Linked DNA regions of Homo sapiens. The protein of the gene in region 3 purifies or fractionates together with the protein of the main gene of each other region. This does not show direct contact. Each region holds a gene or a part of one and is shown on either strand. Other genes may lie near its edges.

Evidence for each region. The genes of interacting proteins can lie anywhere in the genome.
Region 1: the proteins of PDGFRL (region 3) and ZMYM2 purify together in Homo sapiens (co-immunoprecipitation; 2 studies listed by BioGRID and IntAct, with this or other methods). This does not show direct contact.
Region 2: the proteins of PDGFRL (region 3) and ANKRD28 purify together in Homo sapiens (co-immunoprecipitation; 2 studies listed by BioGRID and IntAct, with this or other methods). This does not show direct contact.

Annotation. Positions count from the first base shown.
Region 1 is NC_000013.11:19,989,727-19,996,726, forward strand, and holds part of ZMYM2 (zinc finger MYM-type protein 2), read left to right. Parts: intron 1-3,336; coding exon of another isoform or gene 3,337-3,346; coding exon 3,347-4,193; intron 4,194-7,000. UniProt on the Homo sapiens protein: Involved in the negative regulation of transcription.
Region 2 is NC_000003.12:15,787,980-15,794,979, reverse strand, and holds part of ANKRD28 (serine/threonine-protein phosphatase 6 regulatory ankyrin repeat subunit A), read left to right. Parts: intron 1-7,000. UniProt on the Homo sapiens protein: Regulatory subunit of protein phosphatase 6 (PP6) that may be involved in the recognition of phosphoprotein substrates. Involved in the PP6-mediated dephosphorylation of NFKBIE opposing its degradation in response to TNF-alpha.
Region 3 is NC_000008.11:17,572,592-17,580,348, forward strand, and holds the start of PDGFRL (platelet-derived growth factor receptor-like protein precursor), read left to right. Parts: upstream 1-4,624; 5' UTR 4,625-4,661; coding exon 4,662-4,716; intron 4,717-7,757.

The sequences.
Region 1 (7,000 bases), on a different chromosome or scaffold from region 3:
TTGTGCTATCAAATAATAGGTCTTATTCTGTTTTTCTGTGCCCATTAACCCCCACCTCGCCACTACCCTTCTCAGCCTTTGCTAAGCATCCTTCTACTCTATCTCCATGAGTGTTCTGTAACTTTTAAAAGTCATCAGTATACCTTGTAGATTTTTTTTCATGTCAGTAAGAGATCTTGCTTTTAAAATACCCTAATCTGTTCACTTTTTCTCATCTCCCATCACCACCCTTTTTCAGCCACTGTCATCTCTCACTTGGACCATTTCAATGGCCATCTAGTTTGTTTCTTTGCTTCCAGTTTTTCCCTCTTGTTCCCACATAGCAGCCACAGTGATCTATTTAAAACCTGAGATTGTATCACCTCTTTGCTGGAAACATGGCAGTGTTTCCTGTTCCAGTAAAATCCAAACTTTCACCTTTAGTTAGAATTAATGCTTTCTAAGCTTAGGCAGGGCTGTTTACCTGTTTTGATTACTGATTTTTGCCATGTGCCTAGAAAGTATCTTGTGCATACTAGGTGCTCTGTAAATCTGTTAAATGTAATTAATGAATTAGCTAGTTGGCCTTGATGTGTTATTCTCTGCCTGTTTATCTCATTTTATCCTCCTCTTTGCTTCTTACTTTGATCTGCCACATTGGCTTTATTCTGCTGCTTGGATTGGCCAACTTCATTCCCTCTAGGCTTTGCAGAAGCTGTTTTCTTTGCCTGGAATATCCTGTCCCCAGTTTTCTCACAGCTGAATCTTATCATTTCGTATTTCAGTGTAAATGTCACTTGCTTAAAGAGATGTTCTCTGATCACCAAACTAGTTATCTCTTCACCTTCTGTTATTCTGTTTAAAAGTTTTTAAATTTAGTTTAAAAAAAAGTGATAAATCACGTGGCCCAAAATTAAGAAAATGCTACAAGACGTACAGTGAAAAATGCCTCTACCACTGTCATCTGTAAATCAAAGCAATACATATTAGTCTCTTTTTTATCCTTTCAGAGGCTCTTTAAATGAAGTGTTTTTAAACCAGTCTTTAAGAACTATATAGCCAGTATCTCCTCATCTTTTCAGATAATACACTATGAAAATTAGGCCAAACCACTGTATATAAGCCACTTCAACTTCCCATTCATCCTATCTACAATTTAATCTATAGTCTATACTTGCCCTTCAGTTTTACCTCTTCTAGTTGGTTCCCCTTGCATTTTGCCCCCCAAGTTTGATCTGTGAGATCAAAATGGTTCTTGTTCAGAGTTAGTGATATTACCACCTGAGCCCATGATCTGTCTCATCTCCATTTGCTCAGTAACTTTGTCCTAGAAATTTTCTCTCTGTGTGTGTGTGTGTGTACGTATGTATTTTCTGTGTGTGTGTGTGTGTGTGTGTGTGTGTGTGTGTACGTATGTGTTTTCTTTTGAGACAGGGTTTGCTCTGTTGCCCAGGCTGGAATATAGTGGCACAATCGTAGCTCACTGCAACCTCGAACTCCTGGGCTCAAGTGATCTTCCTGCCTCAGCCTCCTAAGTAGCCAGGACTACAGATGTGCGCCACCATGACTGGCTGACTTTTAAATTTTAGTATTTAGTAGATTTGAGGTCTTGTTATGTTGCTCAGGCTGGTCTCGAACTCCTGGGCTCAAGCAGTCCTCCCACCTCAGCCTCCCAAAATGCTAGGATTACAGGTATGAGCCATTGTGTCTGGCCTGAGGTTATCTTCTTAACTCTGCTATTTTCTTTGACTTCAGCACAACCTGGCATATAGGAGGTGCTTAGAAAATATTAGTTGAATATAGCAGAATGATGAGTTTTGAACTCTTGAGTTTTAGAGACCTGGGTATTCAACCTAGCTGTGTGACTTGGGCAAGAGAGTTAGCATCTGTAAGCCAGAATTTCTTTTCTTTTCTTTTTCTTTTTTTTTTTTTTTTCCCATTTTGAGACAGGTTCTCACTCTGTAGCTCAGGCTGGAGTGCAAGGGCACAATCATGGCTGACATCAGCCTCAAACTCCCGGCCTCAGATGATTCTCCTCTTCAGTCTCCTGAGTAGTTGGGACTACAGGCATGTGCTAACATGCCCGGCTAATTTTTGTATTTTTTGTAGAGATGGGGTTTTGTCATGTTGCCCAGGCTGGTCTCAAACTCCTGGGCTCAAGTGATCTGCCCACCTCAGCCTCCCAATGGTCACACTGCCTTCTCTTTTACTTGTAGTCTCCCTCTGCATGTCTTTTATAAGGGTACTTGTGAGTACATTTGTGACCCACTCAGGTAATCCCATATAATCTCACTTGAAAATCCTTAACATTAATCATATCTGCAAAGTCCCTTTTTCCATGTAAGGTTAACATTTGTAGGTTCCAGGAATGGGGACCTGATATCTTTGGTGACCTTTATTCAGCCTGCTACTGGGATATAAAGCACACAGCATAGTGCCTGGCAAAAAAAACAATTTATGCTTTCTGGATAGGGTCAAAAAAGATTAAAATTTTCAGAAAGATTTAATTGTACAATTAATGGGAGCCAGAGAATATGAGAAAAGTGGGTTAAAAAAAGATGAGATGGCCAGGCACAATGGCCCATGCCTGTAATCCCAGCACTTTGGGAGGCTGAGGCCGAGTTCAGGGGATCTCTTGAGCCTAGGAATTTTGAGACCAGCCAGGGCAACATAGTGAGACCTCGTCTCTACCTAAATAAATAAATAAATAAATTAGCCAGGTGTGGTGGCGATGGCCTGTAGTCCCAGCTACTTGGAGGTGGGAGGATCGCCTTAACCTGGGAGGTCAAGGCTGTAGTGAGCCATGGTCACAACGCTGCACTCCAGCCTGGGTGACAGAACGAGACCCTGTCCTTCCCCACCCCCCAAAAAAGATGAGGTAAGGGAAAGGATTATAGCATGTGACTTTATATGATACAGTGAATAAATGGGATAAGTGTATAATGAAGTAATTATTTTTTGTCAGATTTTGATTTTTTTTTTTTCCTGTTCAGATGTGTGGGAGGATTTATCCATATTTTTAGTGATAAATTTTATGGAGTAAATAGTGTACCCCTGAAAGGAGGTGGTGGTGGTGGTAGGAATATATTGCATATGATTACCATGAATATATTGCATATGATTAATTATCCAATAAAAATTGGATAATTGCCTTCCTTGTTATCCTGCAAAAGTTAACATGTAAACTATATGAAATGATTAATGAATGGATATCACATATTTTCCTGAATGTTAGACAAGAATCACTTCATTTAGAATAAAAATAAAATAAAAGTACCCTTTAAATCAATGGTTTCAGTTAGAGTAACATAAAAAGTCATACTGACATTTTAATTCTTTTTTCTATCTTCCTAACAGGTTCTTTGGCATGGACACAAGTTCAGTGGGAGGATTAGAATTGACTGATCAGACTCCTGTTTTATTAGGGAGTACGGCCATGGCAACTAGTCTCACGAATGTAGGAAACTCATTTAGTGGTCCAGCTAATCCTTTAGTGTCTAGATCTAATAAGTTTCAGAACTCGTCAGTGGAAGATGATGATGATGTTGTTTTTATCGAACCTGTACAACCTCCCCCACCTTCTGTACCAGTGGTAGCTGATCAAAGAACCATAACATTTACATCATCAAAAAATGAAGAACTACAAGGAAATGATTCCAAAATTACTCCTTCCTCAAAAGAGTTGGCATCTCAGAAGGGAAGTGTAAGTGAGACAATTGTCATTGATGATGAAGAGGACATGGAAACAAATCAAGGGCAAGAGAAAAATTCCTCCAATTTTATTGAACGAAGACCTCCTGAGACTAAAAACAGAACCAATGATGTGGATTTCTCCACTTCCAGTTTTTCAAGAAGTAAGGTAAATGCAGGAATGGGTAATAGTGGTATCACCACAGAACCAGACTCTGAAATTCAGATTGCTAATGTTACAACTTTAGAAACAGGTGTAAGCTCTGTGAATGATGGCCAATTAGAAAATACTGACGGGCGAGATATGAACTTAATGATTACACATGTAACATCACTGCAGAATACCAACTTGGGAGATGTCTCTAACGGACTGCAGTCAAGTAATTTTGGTGTTAATATACAAACATACACCCCATCTTTAACTTCACAGACCAAGACTGGAGTAGGACCTTTTAATCCTGGTAGAATGAATGTGGCAGGAGACGTTTTTCAGAATGGAGAATCTGCAACTCATCATAATCCTGGTAAGCAGTAAGAGATACTCTACTTCATGTAAATGAATTTAAACTTTTGGCTGCTGCTTTTTTCATTGTAGTAACTGGTATTACCTTGTTTAGTTTCATCATGTGAAATATGTGAATTATATTGAATTTTATCTTAAGTTTGGTATTTTAATAAGAATTGTAAAACCATGTATAGTATTTTTCTGTGGATTACTAAAAAGTTAATCATAAAGTAGTTTTATATTTAAAGGATTTAAGAAAAAAATACTCTTTACATTCATCACCAAAGTCTGATAATTTGGCCGGGCACGGCGGCTCACACCTGTAATCCCAGCACTTTGGGAGGCCAAGGTGGGTGGATTGCTTGAGCCCAGGAGTTCGAGACCAGTCTAGGCCACATAGCGAGACGCCATCTCTAAATTTAAAAAGCAAAACAAACAAAAGAATGAAGTGTGATAATTTAATATCTTGTTTGTCATGCATTACTTTTTGCTAATAGAATTTTTACTAGTGTTTTAGTATATAAATTAGAGAACCAAAAGATTAATATAATAGCACACTTAAAGAACAGTGTAATATTGTACAGTAGTTGCATTTAGATTTTTTTTTGAGATGGAGTCTTGCTCTGTCACCCAGGCTGGAGTGCAGTGGCGCAATCTTGGCTCACTGCAATCTCCGCCTCCTGTGTTCAAGCGATTCTCCTCCCTCAGCCTTTCAAGCAGCTGGGATTATAGGCGTCCACCACCACGCATGGCTAATTTTTGTATTTTGTATGGGGTTTTATCATGTTGGCCAGGCCAGGCTGGTCTCAAACTCCTGACCTCAGGTGATCTGCCCACCTCAGCCTCCCAAAATGCTGGGATTACAGGCGTGAGTCACTGCACCTGGCCGCATTTAGATTTATTTCTACTTTCCCTGTGCTTATTTAATTTAATTAATTAGTTAATTTTTTGGGACAGGGTCTCTCTCTGTCGCCCAGAGTGGAGTAGAGTGGCACAATCTCAGCTCACTGCAACCTCGACTTCTTGAGCTCAGGTGATCCTTCCATCGCAGCCTCCAGAGTAGCTGGGACCACAGGTGTGAGCCACCATGCCTGGCTAAATTAAAAAAAAAAAAAAAAATTATTTGTAGAGACGGAGTCTTACTGTGTTGCCCAGGCTGGTCTTATACTCCTGGGCTCAAACATTCCTTCTGCCTTGGCCTCCTAAAGTACTGGGATTCTAGGTATGAGCCACCATGCCCAGCCATTTTATTTTTTATTAAGAGTTGGCTAAGGTTTTATTTTTCTCACATTTGAAGAAAGCCAAACATATCATCCTTTTTTTCTTTTCTAAAACTACTTTAAAGTTATGATTGACATGCAAAAGGCTGTATATATTTAATGTCTACAACTCGATAATGCCGTGTTTATTTTTGACCACGTATCTTTAGCTTTTAGTTAGCATTTTACTACTAAAAAATTTTTAAAAATTATTTTTATTTTTCAAGGGCATAAATAAGCAATACTTTTTTTTCTTATTTATTTGTTTATTGACAGAGTCTTGCTGTATCGCCCAGGCTGGAGTGCAGTGGTGCAATCTCGGCTGACTGCAGCCTCTGCCTCCCTAGTAGCTGGAATTATAAATGTGTGCCACCATACCCAGCTAATTTTTGTATTTTTAGTAGAGACGGGGTTTCACCATGTTGGCCAGATTGGTCTTGAACTCGTGGCCTCAAGTGATCCATCTGCCTTGGCCTCTCAAAGTTCTGGGATTACAGGTGTGAGCCACTGTACCCAGCCCCCCACCTTTTTTTTTGAAGGTTGATAGTTTTCTTGACTATTTGAAATTGTTTTCTGTGAGCAGCCTTGTTCTGTGAAAACTTTAAAATATGGAAGTGATAAGAACTCTGTGCCAGCCTGGACAACGTGGTGAAAAAATACAAAATACTGAAAATATGAAAAGTTAGCTAGGCATAGTGGTGCACACCTGTGGTCCCAGCTACTTGGGGGGCTGAGGTGGGAGGATTCCTTGAGCCCCATAGGCAGAGGTTGCAGTGAGCCAGGATTGCACCACTGTATTCCAGCCTGGGTGACAAAGTGAGACCCTGTCTCAAAAACAAAACAAACTCTGTGACTTTTTCATGACATGTCTGTGGATGTCTCTCTCTCTCTTTAACCTCTCCCCCAATTCCTCTGTGTGTGTGTGTCTATCGGCGTTTCTCTCTCACATGCCTCTCTCTGACCCATTCTGTCATCATTTTAGGCTCATTATCCTAGGGATTGTGGAGAATAATGTGAAGTAACTAAAATCTAGGCAATGTAGAATGCTATATGAATTGCTAGTTATTTTTCTTATTTGTCGAGTAATGTCTGATTATTGAAGACTGCTTAGAAAATCTATAATTTAAAACAAGAGCTGGTGCCAAGCATGGTGGCTCATGCCTGTCATCCCAGCACTTTGGGAGACCAAGGCAGGAGGATCACTTGAGCTCAGGAGTTTCAGACCAGCCTCTGGGCAACAGAGCAAGACCTTGTCTCTACTAAAGATAAAAAAAAAACTAGCCAGGGCTGGTTGCGGTGGCTCAAGCCTGTAATCTCAGCATTTTGGGAGGTCAAGGTGGACGGATCATCTGAGGTCAGGAGTTTGAGACCAGCCTGGCCAACATGGTGAAACCCCATCTCAACTAAAATACAAAAATTAGTGGGGCATGGTGGTGCATGCCAGCTGCTCGGGAGGCTGAGGCACGATAATTTGTTGAACCTGGGAGGCGGAGGTTGCAGTGAGCAGAGATTGCACCACTGCACTCCAGCCTGGGCGACAGACTGAGACTCTGTCTCAAAAAACAAA
Region 2 (7,000 bases), on a different chromosome or scaffold from region 3:
AAACATGCTGACTACCCATATACCTTTCACTTACTTTTGGCATTGATAACATTTTGCCACATTTGCTTTCTGTATTTATTAATATACAACTTTTACATATATATGTAGTAAGTTGCAGAAATCATGATACTTCACCATTAAATACTTAACTGTGCATTTCAAATGAGGATTCTTGTAAGTGTATATCTAAATATAAGATCAGATTTGCTTTTTGTAAATAATCATGGTGAGTGTTTTACAATGGTGCTTGATTAATTTTTGTCAGATTAGGTTTTCAGTAAAGTCATTGTTGGAAAAGTTTTCAGACTTAACGATACAGTAGTATATTCAGTGCTGACATGATGGACAGTTTTAGAAAGGTGGATATATGGATAATTTTCTCTCTCTGTTATGTTTTTTCAGTGGCCAGTATTTAGTTTACTAAGTTGTGGCTGAAAGTACATTACGTACTCTAACAAAATTACATCCACTAATGTATATATTTTTACCAGAAACAAATGTACCCCTGAGTTATGGAGGGGGTGAAAAGTCATATGATTCACAAAGTCGCTGTGGCAACACCAAAACAGATGACCTAGAAATGATTGTGGTTTTAAGAAAGCACCCATTGCAAGCTCATTTTTAACTCTCATCTTTCCTCCTTTTTTTTTTAATATAATACTGCTGTGACCACTTAATGTTAGGTAGATACAAAAAAGTTTTACCTTATTTTTAAAATAATGAATTATCTGAATAGATTTGAATCATTGGCTAAAACTGTTGTTAATTTTAACATTGGGTAATGAACAGAATGCTATCATTATATATTTTTTAAAATTTTTTCTAAGTGAATTGCCTTCAAGTTTATATTTAGTTGGAAACATGCACCTAATTCAGGATTTATGTATGTATGTATGTATGTATTTATTTAGAGACAGAGTCTGGCTCTGTTGCCCAGGCTGGAGTGTAGTGGCATGATCTCCGCTCACTGCAACCTCTGCCTCCCGGGTTCAAGCGATTCTCCTGCCTCAACCTCCCAAGTAGCTGGGATTACAGGCACCTGCCACCACGCCCGATTAATTTTTGTGTTTTTAGTAGAGACAGGGTTTCATTCACCATGTTGGCCAGGCTGGTCTCAAACTCCTGATCTCAGGTGATCGGCCCGCCTTGGCCTCCCAAAGTGCTGGGATTACAGGCGTGAGGCACTGTGCCGGGCCATGATTTATTTGTTTTAAATGAAGTGTCTGGCTACTTTACCCAGGGTATACTGAAGAGTATGCGTTTCTTAGAAAATAGCTCAAGGGGTATAGACGCATGAAAAGGTGGAAAACATGTTTTCCATTTAACTCCTAAGGTTTTCTTGTTATTTTGGTTTTATTTTAATAGTACTGACAAATACTACCTTGATTAGAAAGTTTGAACTATAATTCCATTTACCAGGGCTAATTTCTCCATCATTACAAAGTTTATTGTAGCTGACATTACTTTTATGTTATATTTAATCAATTTATCCTAAATTAAAAAAAAATTCAGAGTCATTGAGAGCATCAGCTCACTCATCAGTAGGCCTTTCTTGAGAGTAACTCTTTGACAATTGTCTTCAGTGATACAAAGGTTTTTGACAACAACTTTTATGATTGCTTTTAGGCCTTTTCTCTCGTGACCCTTTCTTAGTAGTTGAGAGTGTTGCCTTAAAGTCAAGATTTGTTAACTTTTTGGCCATTATTTGAATTTAAGATGGTAAATATCATCTGATTTTGTCTGATAAGGAATCATATGGGGTTTTAAAAGGCAATGGGTGTTAAATGCACTGACTTTTAATAGGTAATAAAATATTTTTAAGCTTTATGTCAGTGTGACAGTCGTGTTTTTCCAAAGTAAATTTATTTAAATAAGTATTTGGAGAATAACGTTGGACTTTTTGAAACTCAGGTTTCTCTTAAGTTTTTTGAAGTTGTTTTTATTCATTTTTAGAATGGATATAAGTTCAGATTTATTTCTCTACCATTAAATAGTCATTGTATAATTTTAGATGAGTTTCTTTAGTCACACCCTGAGGTTTTGAATATTGTAGACCACTAAACAGCACGTTTCTTAGTAACACACCTAATAGATTTTTCTTCTTATTTTAGTGGGTTTTAAAAAAAATTTGTGGGTACATAATAGGTGTCTATATTTATGGGGTACATGGGATGTTTTGGTACAGGCATGTAATGTGAAATAATCATATCATGAAGAATTAGGTATTCATCCCCTCAAGCATTTATCCTTTGAGTTACAAACATTCCAATTACATTATTTAAGTTATTTTAAAATATACAATTAAGTTATTATTGACTATAGTCACCCTATTGTGCTATCAAATAGTAGGTCTTATTCTATTTTTTTGTACCCATTAACCATCCCCACCTCCCACTCAACCCCCCATTACCCTTCCCAGCCTCTGGTAACCATCCTTCTGTTATGTCCATGAATTCAGTTGATTTGATGTTCAGATCCCACAAGTAAGTGAGAACATGTGATGTTTGTTTTTCTGTGCCTGCCTTATTTCGGTTAACATAATGATCTCCAATTCTATCCCTGTTGTTGCAAATGACTGGGTCTGTTTTTTTATGGCTGACGAGTACTCCATTGTGTGTATGTACCACATTTTCATTATCCATTCATCTGTTGATGGACACTTAGGTTGCCTCCAAATGTTAGCTATTGTAAACAGTGCTGCAACAAACATAGGAGTGCAGATCTCTTCGATACACTGATTTCCTTTATTTTGGATATATACCCAGCAGTGGAATTGCTCGATCATATGGTAGCTCTATTTTTAGTTTTTTGGGGGACCTCCAAACTGTTCTCCGTAGTGGTTGTACATTCCCACCAATGGTGAACAAGGGTTCCCTTTTCTTTACATCCTCACCAGCATTTGTTACTGCCTGACTTTTGGATAAAAGGCATTTTAACTGGGACAAGATGATATCTCATTGAGTTTTGGATATCTGATGATTAGTGATGTTGAGAACCTTTTCACCATTTGTGTGTCTTCTTTTGAGGAATGTCTATTCAGATCTTTTGCCCATTTTTTATCAGATTATTAGGTTTTTTCCTGTAGAGTTGTTTGAGCTCCTTATATTCTGGTTATTAGTCCCCTGTCAGAGGGGTAGTTTGCAAATGTTTTCTCTCGTTCTGTGGGTTGTCTCTTCACTTTGTTGATTACTTCCTTTGCTGTGCAGAAGCTTTTTAACTTGATGTGATCCCATTTGTCCATGTTTGCTTTGGTTGCCTGTGCTTGTGGGCTATTGCTCAAGAAATATTTGCTCAGACTAATGTCCTGGAGATTTTCCCCAGTGTTTTCTTGTATTAGATTCAGTTTGAAGTATTTAATGCATTTTGATTTGAATTTTGTATATGGCAAGAGATAGGGGTCTGGTTTCATGATTTTGCATGTGTTTATCCAGTTTCCCAGCACCATTTATTAAAGAGACTTGTCTTTTCCCAGTGTATGTTCTTGGCACCTTTGTCAAAAATGAGTTTGCTGTAGGTGTTTGGATTTGGTTTTGGGTTCTCTGTTCTGTTCTATTGGTACACGTGTCTGTTTTTGTGACAGTACCATGCTGTTTTGGTTACGATAGGTCTGTAGCATAATTTGAAGTTAGATAATGGGATTCCACCAGTTTTGTTCTTTTTGCTTAGGGTGGCTTTGGCTATTCTGGGTCTTTTCTGGTTCCATATAAATTTTAGTATTTTTTCTATTCCTGTGAAGAATTCCATTGGTATTTTGATTGGGATTGCATTGAATCTATAGATTGCCAGGACATTTTAACAGTGTTGATTCATCCCAATCCATGAACATGGAATATTTTTCCATTTTTTGGTGTCCTCTTCAATTTTCTTCATTCGTGTTTTATTGTTTCCATTATAGAGATCTTTTACTTCTTTGGTTAATTCCTAAGTATTTAATTTTATGTATGGCTATTGTAAACAGGATTACTTTTTAGTTTCTTTTTCACATTGTTCACTGTTGGCATATAGAAATGCTAGTGATGTTTGTACATTGATTTTGTATTCTGGAACTTTACTGAATTTATCAGTTCTAGTTTTCTTGTGGAATGTTTAGGTTTTTCCAAATATAAGATTATATCACCAACAAACAGGTATAATTTGACTTCTTCCTTCCCAATTTGTATGCCTTTGATATCTTTCTCTTGTCTGATTGAGCTAGATAGGACTTCCAGTACTATGTTAAATAACAGTGGTGACAGTGGGCATCCTTGTGTTGCAGGTCTTAGAGGAAAGATTTTCAGTTTTTCCTCATTCAGCATGATACTAGCTGTGGGTCTGTCATATATGGCTTTTATTATGTTGAGATATGTTCCTTCCATATCCAGTTTTTTGAGGGTTTTTATCATGAAGGGATATTGAATTTTTTAATCAAATGTTTTTTCAACATCAGTTGAAATGATCATATGGTTATTCTTTATTTTTTTGATATGATATATCATGTTAATTGATTTTGTGTTTTGAACCATCCTTGCATCCCACAGATAAATCCCACTTGATCATGATGAATGATCTTTCTAATATATTGTTGAATTCAGTTGTGCTAGTATTTTGTTGAGGATTTCTGCATTAATACTCATCAGCGATACTGGCCTGTAGTTTTCTTTTTTTGATGTGTCTTTGTCTGGTTTTGGTATCAGGGTAATACTGGCCTTGAATGAATTTGGAAGTATTCCCTCCTCTATTTTTTAGAATATTTTGAGTAGGATTGGTATTAGTTCTTCTTTAAATGTTTGGTAGAATTCAGCAGTGAAGCCATTATGTCCTGGCCTTTTCATTACTAGAAGACTTTTTATTACAGCTTTGATCTCATTACTTGTTACTGGTCTGTTCTGGTTTTGGATTTCCTCTTGTTTCAATCTTGGTAGGTTGTATATGTCTAGGAATGTGTCCATTTCTTCTATATTTTCCAGTTTATCAGCATATATAGTTGCTTACAGTAACCACTAACAAGCCTTTGGATTTCTGCATAAGTCATAATGTCTGTGTAAGTCGTAATTTCTGTGTAAGTTGTAATGTCTCCTTTTTCATTTCTGATTTTATTTGGATCTTCTTCTCTTTTTTTCTTAGTCTGGCTAAAGATTTGTCAATTGTATTTTTTTAAGTCAACTTTTTGTTTCCCTAATAGATTTTTAACAAACTTTAATTTTAAAAAATTATATATTCATATTATTTGGTATGACATGAAGTCTTCTAGAAGTCATGTAACATAGTTTCACTAGCAAATACTAGAGTTTTATATTTGGCAGATTTTGGCCACAGATATAATAATTGACTACCTGAATAAATAGAGGTTTTTTGCTTGTGTAATAATTTAATCTAGAGCATGGTAATTTGGGGTTGTTTAAAACAGCAATGTCAGAGCTCTGGGTGAGCTTCTCTGTGAAACTCTTGGCTTTCTCATAATAAAGAGATGACTGCTGTATCATGTACTTATGGGAGACAACCAAAGACATTGGAAAAGAGACTCTCCTGTACATTTTCTTTTCTTTTCTTTTCTTTTTTTTTTAAAAAAAGGAGAAAACCTCTCTTCGAAAGTCCCCACAAAATTCCTTCCTAAGGTTCCATTGGTTACAAGACTACTCTAAACTAATTCACCAGCAAAGCAGAATGGGGTTCGCTTTTTGCTAGATCAGTCTTGGTTCATCACCTGGTTCATCCCCTGGAGCAGGAATAGGGCTTCAGTGGACTTTATTGAATATATTGCCATATTCAGGAGTAAATCAGGATTTTCATAGGAAGGAAGAAAGGGAAAATAGTTGTTTGGATAGGAACCTAACTGGACGGTTATTAGTTGCCTAAAAACTGTTGAAATAGCAAAATTTTGGAAAAATAAGTCACCTGGATGTGGAAGAAGCACTGTAAACCATAAAAGGGTGAAATGCAATCAAAATGTTTTAAAAGCAGAGTGGTACATAGAATGTGAAGAACAGTTGGACTCTAAGTTGAAAGACCTAGATTTTCATATCTTCTTAGCCTTATTGGCTATACAAGTTGAGTGAATCCTGTTAACTTCAGCCCTCACTCTTCTTTTTTTTTGGGGGGGTAAATGTGTAGGGTTACATTAATGATCTTCACAGTCTTTCCCCACTCCAAATTCAGGACACTCTAAAAATTCTAAATGACTTTCAGTGACCTCCTGCTTTTGCCCAAAAGCTTTCATTTGTGTTTCTAGATTTTCGTGACCAAAATAATAAATGCCTTTCCCTAAGATTTACTAGAACTTAATGCCATGTTGTAGAACCCAAATAGGTTAATCTGAAATATTAATGATACCACATTTTAGAGGAAAACTTTGATTCTTCTTTATAAGAAAATTATTTTCTACAAATATTAATTTTTTATTAAGAGTATTAAAATTGGTGTTAATTGTAGAACTTTACTTTTGAGACAGACATAGGCATAAGCCATTTTGTATTACTCAATTTAACTTGTACAACAGTTTTATAAAATTGACAGGTTAACATTTCTACTAAAATTCACAAAAATTAACCGTCTGCAGAATCAGTATAGCAGAATGGGAATTTGAACCCATGTCCGACTTAATAGTAACTGGAGAAATAAAGCATATTGTTGAGAGAGAAATATTTTTTCTTCTGCCAAATAGTACTATAAAGCAATAATAGTTGGAAAATGGATGTTTCTCTCTAAAATAGTTATGTCTGTGCCCTATGAACTCCTGCCTTTTAAGCTGTGATACAAAGATAATCCTAATTTTTATAATACCAAGTGCTGTTACATTTTATCATTGCAAACAAGTGATGAGACAAATAAGACACAAGCCTTCTTTAGTGCCATATTTTTTTGGTAGATAAAAATGTCAAAGTAGTATTACACAAGGATCCAGCCAAACTGTTTTTAGTGTTTAAACATAGGAAGGCTGAGATTATGAGCAACCCTTTTTAAACTCTAAAGAGCTGATTTAAGAGCTAAGCGGTAGATCTTAGATGTAGCATATAACTTAATA
Region 3 (7,757 bases):
GCAACTAATGAATAGGTGATGCATCTTTACAACATGCTACATCCTGGAGCTAGGAAGGTCTTGTGCTTCATTGGTTTTAAGTAGACTAAGTTTCTGGGATCCCTACCTTACCCTAAGATGTCCCTTGACGAGTGGCTCTGGGAGTGTCAAAAATGTCTGGCATTTCTATCAGAATGAAGTCTTCAGGGAGTCCCATATTTAAAACCACTAAATTTTATTCCTGCTAAAACCTCGAAGCATTGATTTTTGTTGCAGGAAGTCAGGGACCCCGAACAGAGGGACTAGCTGGAGCCATGGCAGAGAAACATACATTGTGAAGATTTCATGGACATTTATCAGTTCCCAAATAATACTTTTATAATTTCTTATGCCTGTCTTTACTTTAATCTCTTAATCCTGTTATCTTCGTAAGCTGAGGATGTACATCACCTCAGGACCACTGTGATAATTGTGTTAACCGCACAAATTGATTGTACAATGTGCGTTTGAACAATATGAAATCAGTGCACCTTGAAAAAGAACAGAATAACAGTGATTTTTAGGGAACAAGGGAAGTTACAATCATAAGGTCTGACTGCCTGTGGGGTCGGGCAAAAAGAGCCATACTTTTCATCTTGCAGAGAGCCTATAAACGGACACGCAAGTAGGAGAGATATCACTAAAATCTTTTCCTAGCAAGAAATATTAATATTAATGCCCTGGGAAAGGAATGCGTTCCTGGGGGGAGGTCTATAAATGGTCGCTCTGGGAATGTCTGTCTTGTGCAGTTGAGATAAGCACTGAGATACACCCTGGTCTCCTGCAGTACCCTCAGGCTTACTAGGGTGGGGAAAAAAGTCCGCCCTGGTACATTTGCGGTCAGACCAGTTCTCTGCTCTCGAACCGTTTTCTGTTGTTTAAGATGTTTATCAAGACAATACATGCACCGCTGAACATAGACCCTTTTCAGTGGTTCTGCTTTTGCCCTTTGCCTTGTGATCTTTGTTGGACCCTTATCAGTAGTTCTGCTTTTGACCTTTGTCCTGTTCCCTCAGAAGCACGTGATCTTTGTTCTGCTTTTTGCCCTTTGAAGCGTGTCATCTTTGTACCTACTCTCTGTTTTTACACCCCCTCCCCTTTTGAAACCCTTAATAAAAAACTTGCTGGTTTGAGGCTCAGGTGGGCATCACGGTCCTACCAATGTATGATGTCACTCCTGGCGGCCCAGCTGTAAAATTCCTCTCTTTGTACTCTTTCTCTTTATTTCTCAGCCGGCCGACACTTAAGGAAAATAAAAAGAACCTACGTTGAAATATTGGGGGCGGATTCCCCTGATAGATTTTTGTGAAAAAATCATCTTGGTTGTATGTCTGTAGTTAACGAAGACTAGTTAGAGAAGTTACGTGTCCTTATCTTGGGGATGGAGAAGGGATGCCCAAAATATTGGCTGATTTTTTCTTACCTAACAAATTCCTAATGGTATTCACCACTTCAAAGGGGCAAATAAAAAGCACGGAAGGCAATGGAGTAGGGAGATTTCATGGGTAAGCATAGAAAGCTACCGTTAATTAAAATAGATAATGAAAATGGCCAGGCACGGTGGCTGACACCTGTAATCCCAGCACTTGGGGAGGCTGAGGCAGGAGGATCACTTGAGGTCAGGAGTTTGAGACCAGCCTGGCCAACACAGCGAAAACCCATCTCTACTAAAAATACAAAAATTAGTCAGACATGGTGGCGCACACCTGTAGTCCCAGCTACTCAGGAGGCTGAGGCAGGAGAATTGCTTGAGCCGGAGAGGTGGAGGTTGCAGTGAGCTGTGATCATGCCAGTGTACTCCAGCCTAAGCAACAGAGTGAGACTTATCTCAAAGAAAAGAGAAGAAAGAAAAGTGGGTGTTACAGGTAATGTGATCGTTTATCTAAAAACCCAAGAGATCAACTGAAAACTATTTAAGCTACTAAGAAGGTCCATTAAGGTGACCAGATACAAGCTAAACATACAAAAAAAAAAAATCAGGCCTTGGGAAAGCAGGCTTCAAGTTGTATTTGATTTAGAGCTGCAAGATAATGTTTATTTTAATTGGCTAACATTATAGTAATTGTTGGAGAAGGAATGGAAAAGATCAACACGACATTCTAATAATAAAATTCTTTCTCACCCTAGAGACAAAGCACGTGGATTTTTATAGTGAAATAAGACCTGTGAAAAATACAGCTTTGGCAGTTTTTGTTTTCAAATTTAAAATCATCTTGAGATTGTCTCATTCAAGGATAATAAGCCTTGTGATGAAATAGCTACGTGTCTTGGGAAGCCCTTATACTTCTTATGAATTCTGTTCCCATCTTAATACAGACCCCTGTATTAATTTGCTGGGGCTACCATAGCAAAGAACCACAGAGTGCGTGGTTTAAAGAACAGAAATGTATTCTCTTATAGTTCTGAATGGCAGAAATCTGAGAGCAAGGTGGCAGAAGAATGGGTATTCTCTGAGGCCTCTCTTCTTTGCTTTTATTTATTTATTTATTATTTATTTATTTTGAGACAGTCTCTCTCTGTCGCCCAGGCTGGAGTGCAGTGGTGCCATCTCAGCTCACTGCAACCTCGCTTCCCAGGCTCAAATGACTCTCTCGCCTCAGCCCCCCAAGAAGAGCCTCTAAGCGGCAAGAGAAAGAGGGACGACTCTCGGCTAAATGTAGCTGAGCCAGGGCAGTGAAGCTTGACAATAATGGCACAAGAGAGGTGGACCTGGCACATGCATAGTCAGCATGGAGGGGATACTGCGACCGAGAGGAGGAATCTAGACCCAACCCCAGGCTCCAACATGGAGTGAGAGTTAAGCAGTCAATTCATGGGGTCAGAATGAAAAGAAATCTCACGGTGGGGCAATTTAGGCAGATTTACTCTCTCCTGTGTGCATGCTCCAAGTCCTTTGCTCAGAATTCTCCCCAGAACCTGACACACCACATTGCAGTGGTCTAAATGCTTGTTCACTCCTTAAAAGTAGCCATGAGAGATGATGTCTCAACCTTCATAGCCGTAATGTTAATCACATAGCAAACTCCTGTTGAAATAATCACCTAGTTCCCTTTCTTAATAAACAAGAGATGCTAAAACCCAGAAGGTTAAGTGAATTCTGAGAGGCATGGAGAGTTTGTGCCAGTGTCAGCATCTGAACTCTGGTCTTTATTCCCAGCCAACTGCTCTCTGCATCGCAAGGCAAGCGAGTGGCAAAGCTCCGGCTAGAGCTGGCAACAGAATATAGAATTCTTGGTTCCTCCTGCAGAAGTGACTGAGAAGCATTAGTTTGTTATAAATGGCAGCACTTCTTTCGTTGGGTGTTGAGGGACAAGTCCCTTTCCTGTTATTTAGAATTGAGCTCCCTTTAATAGCAGTGCCTGGTGCTGAAGATTACAATGAGATGGGCTGCTTCTCACCGGGGGAACACACACAGGCATCTCCCCCGCTAGCAAACTGCTTTGATCATGAGAGTCTGCAAGCTCAGAAACGCAGGATGGCTCTCTGCAGAGGGACTTGTGAAAGCCCGTATCTTCTGCCCCACTGTTACCTGATAGAGTTGTCCAGGTTCTTGGCCTGTTGAACAAAAAATTGAACGAAATGCACGGAGTAACGAAAGAAAGAAGCAAGGAAAAACAAAGCAACAGAAGGGAGGAAGGAAAACGTAGATTTATAGAAGACAATTCACAGAGGGCGCTGCAGCAAGCCACAAGAGCCTGACGCTCCCCAGGGATTTTATAAAGCGAAAAGAACTTGGCAACACCCTTGGGTTCCCTTTAGAGGCCTCCAACTGGTTACACCTTACGAAGGACTGGCCTGCGACCAGTCCGAGGCTGAAGTGGAAACTTCTGCCTTGTTATCAGAGGAGCGAGGATGTGGCCTGTGTGCCGCCTAATCATGCCTAGAACTGTCTGCACCTGCTGATCTTTTGCTTCTGCGAACTGGCTGCACCTGCTGTTCTCCTGCTCATACCCTAGCCCGTGCTTACCCTAATTCCCTGTTCTCCTGCCTCACCACCAGAGGCCCGGGTTGTCTGCACAGTCTCATTTTCCACGTTATTCCTGTAATGAACCCGTCCTCCCACCCCCACCAGCAGTTACAGGGCTGGGTGCGGAGACCAACTCTGGCCAGACACAGAGGAGCAGCAAGAACCCGGGGCAACGGTCCTGTGAGTGAGTGCATGTGGGGGAGAGAAATGGAATGAACAGAAATAATTTAGGAAGCACTTTTTACAGAGCACTCAGGTTCTGCCTGAGGAGGTGGGGCGGGCGCTGGTAACATTTGGACAATCGTGGTTAAAAGTGACCCCATCAGCACCCGCTGATCCTTCTTGAACTTGATAACCTTGGTGAAAACGCCAAGCGTTGGAGAAATTCAAGGAATGGCTGTTGTAATGTACATTTCACGCTTAGCCTTTCCTCCCCGCGCTGGGAAGAAGTGCTGCGCACCGCGGCTCCGCCAGGGGGCAGGAGAAGTCACATTACACAGAGAACTAAAAAAAAAAAAAATTCCCCAACTTTTTCCCCCAAACCTTGTTCCTCCTGAAGAAACCGAATCCTCCCGCTTCGGCGTCCCAGGAGCCCGCCCCTCGCCCGCCGCCTCCCCTGCGTCCCCGCCCCGCGCAGCCGCCGCGCTCCTGCGCTCCGAGGTCCGAGGTTCCCGAGATGAAGGTCTGGCTGCTGCTTGGTCTTCTGCTGGTGCACGAAGCGCTGGAGGATGGTGAGTGACTCTGGGCGCGGGGCCACCTAGCTTGTGCCCTGACTTTAGCCGGGACCCGAAGCCCCCGCCGCCCTCCTGCCAGCTCTTGGTCTAACGTTCGGCCCTCGGTGGCTCAGCCCCCGCGCCACTGCCTGCCCGGTGCACCTGCCCCCTCCTGGTGGGGTCTCCTTTCCTCCCACTCTTTGCCTGCCCGGAGAGCCCTCTAGGGGTGGTGGCAGCTACCCCGACCCTTAGGAGCCCACCAGGACCTCTCCAAGTCCCCATCTCCGGGCGAACCAAGCATCCCCAGCCAGCGCCTGGTCCAGCCCCCAGTGTCAACGTGTCGGTCTGGGAGGTGGGGCGGGAGCCTCGGATCGCTTCCACCTCCCAGCGGCGTGGCTGGGACCTCTGCTGCTGAGAGCGAGTGCCACCTAAGCTCGGCAATCGCTGATTCGGTTGCAGAGTTCCAGGTGACCTCCCCCTCCCCTCGCAGTTCTGGGCGTGTTTTCGTCTACCACCTTTTGCTTGAATCCTGCAAGATCTGCCTAGATCTTCGAACAAAAATGTCAGTGTATGAAACTTCAAAACGAATCAAAAGCCCACGGCTTATTATATTTATCTAATTGGATGGGAAATGGTGAAGAAAATGCATTTTTTTGGTACAGCTTATGGGACCATGACCGCTGCGCGTTTTTGAATGTGTACCTGTCCTGGGTCCACCCTGTCGTGTACACCCGTGACCACAGGGTCTGGTGTTATTTTTCTGTGTGTCTGGGTGTGTGTATTACTGTGGTGTGTATTATATATTATTGTTAGCATTTAAATGTTTTGTTTGCTCTATTCACTCCATGGGTGTTATTTGTACAGTACATGTTTCATCTGGGTGCCTCCTGGTGTCCTCAACCCTCTCTTGAAATTCCTGGGCTACAACACAATTTTTGCTTAGATTTAGTGGAAAAGTAGCTTTTGCTGTTATGCAACTTCATGCTGGAGCCAGCTCGACCTGGCTCACATTTTTATCCACTCGTTCATCCTGACCAGTTCCTTTCTTTCCTAGGAAACTACATTTGCCAAAAAAATACCGCATTGTAGTTTGCAAAATCCAAGATAGTCGTGGTACTTGAAGTTGAGCATGAGGGTCCTTCAGCCTAGAGCTTTGCTTAATAAAACGTAGGCAGAGCTTCTACTGGGAGAGTAACACTTAACTCTGCCCAGAGAGAAGTTGCCATGAGTTCAGTTTGTAAAATGCAATATTAAAATGCTCCTGGCAGGCCCTTGTGTGCAACCGCTGAAAAGGCAGAAATGTAATTTGTAGTATCATTTTTTGAATAGGGCAGGAGATGGCCAGGCAAAATAATTTCAAATCAGCCATTCCTTTGTTTATACCCAACTTGCCAGTCTTAGAGGCTCAGAAATTGACTTCCATTCTGCCTCCTGGATCTCACCCAGCCCATGTGAGTTTATTACAAACATCTGACTAAATTTACCCTTTCTTTAAGTGTAATCCATACAAACAATAAGCATTTATGAGACAATTGGAGAAAGTGGAATACAGACTGAATGTAAGAAATAGTTCATAAATTTTAGGTGATAATAGCACGAAGATTTTGTTTATAAAAGTACACACATCTGGCCGGGCACAGTGGCTCATGCCTGTAATCCCAGCACTTTGGGAGGCCAAGGCAGGTGGATCACAAGGTCAGGAGTTCAAGACCAGCCTGGCCAAGATGGTGAAACCCCGTCTCTACTAAAAATATAAAAATTAGCCGGGCGTGGTGGTGGGCACGTGTAATCCCAGCTACTTGGGAGGGTGAGGCAGAGAACTGCTTGAACCTGGGAGGCAGAGGTTGCAGTGAGCCGAGATCGCACCACTGCACTCCAGCTGGGCGACAAAGTGAGACTCCATCTCAAGAAAATAAAGATAAAAATAAAAGCACACATATCTATAATGTATGGACTATTTATGGATACAATAGTGAACACACAGTGCTTCATTAAGTTATGTAACCGTTTGGCTAAACCTATTAAGAATGGTTTTTGGTTTTGAGTTGTGTTGTGAGTTGTGGCCAGGAGCTACTAAGGAGAGTGGATTACACAGGAGGCCCTTCCAGTGCTGGTCTCAGATTGGCAGGTTGGGAATATCCTGCCTTCAAGGCCATCCCAAAGCACAAATTACAGACACAAGGTCCATGACTCAACTTGTTTCACTGCCTTTTAGTTTTTCTGATCACATCTAAAAGACAGTCTTTATTATTATTTTATTATTATTGTTATTATTATTATTATTATTATTATTATTGAGATGGAGTCTTGCTATGTCACCCAGGTGGAGTGCAGTGGCACAATCTTAGCTCACTGCGACTTCCACTTGTGCTAGCCACCACAACTAGCCAAAGACAGCCTTCTAAGAGGAAAAGACTTCCCTGCAAGTGTGTATGGGGGTGAACATCTGGCCTGTGACCCAATGAAGCTGGCTGCTCCCAATGACAAAATGCTTTAAATTTTTGGAAGTAATGTTCTTTCTCCTCATGAAGATGGGGAGCTGGAAAGGCACATAATACTTCATGGCATGAAACTGAGGGATGAAAACAGGTAATAAATAATCCAAGATTCCACGTTGAGATGTCAATCATAGCACCTGATTTTCAGCATTTATATGGAATACATGCCACCGAGTTTATTAATAGGGTGCTTCTATTTTCACATTGAAAAGTATAAAATCACAAATATTTCCTGACTTTTGATTACCTACATATTTTTATTGAATGTCAGGAGCAAACACTGAAGTGTTAATATTGATTTGTGCAACGAGTTCTGTTGAATAACATGAGATCCTTGATCCATGCTAATCTGGTCTTCAGTAACCTGGGTTTATTTTGCATCTGGTGAAAGGGGTTTCTTTCTTGGAGGACTACAGACATTCATTATTGTCTGAGAGCAATATAGCCAGATCTCTAAGAAGGTAAGGACAGAGACACAATGACGAGGATTCTCTAACCAAGAGCCTTTGACACTTTCGTGTCTTCGTTTATTTTTGAGAAAAAAAAAGAGTAAAAATTAGT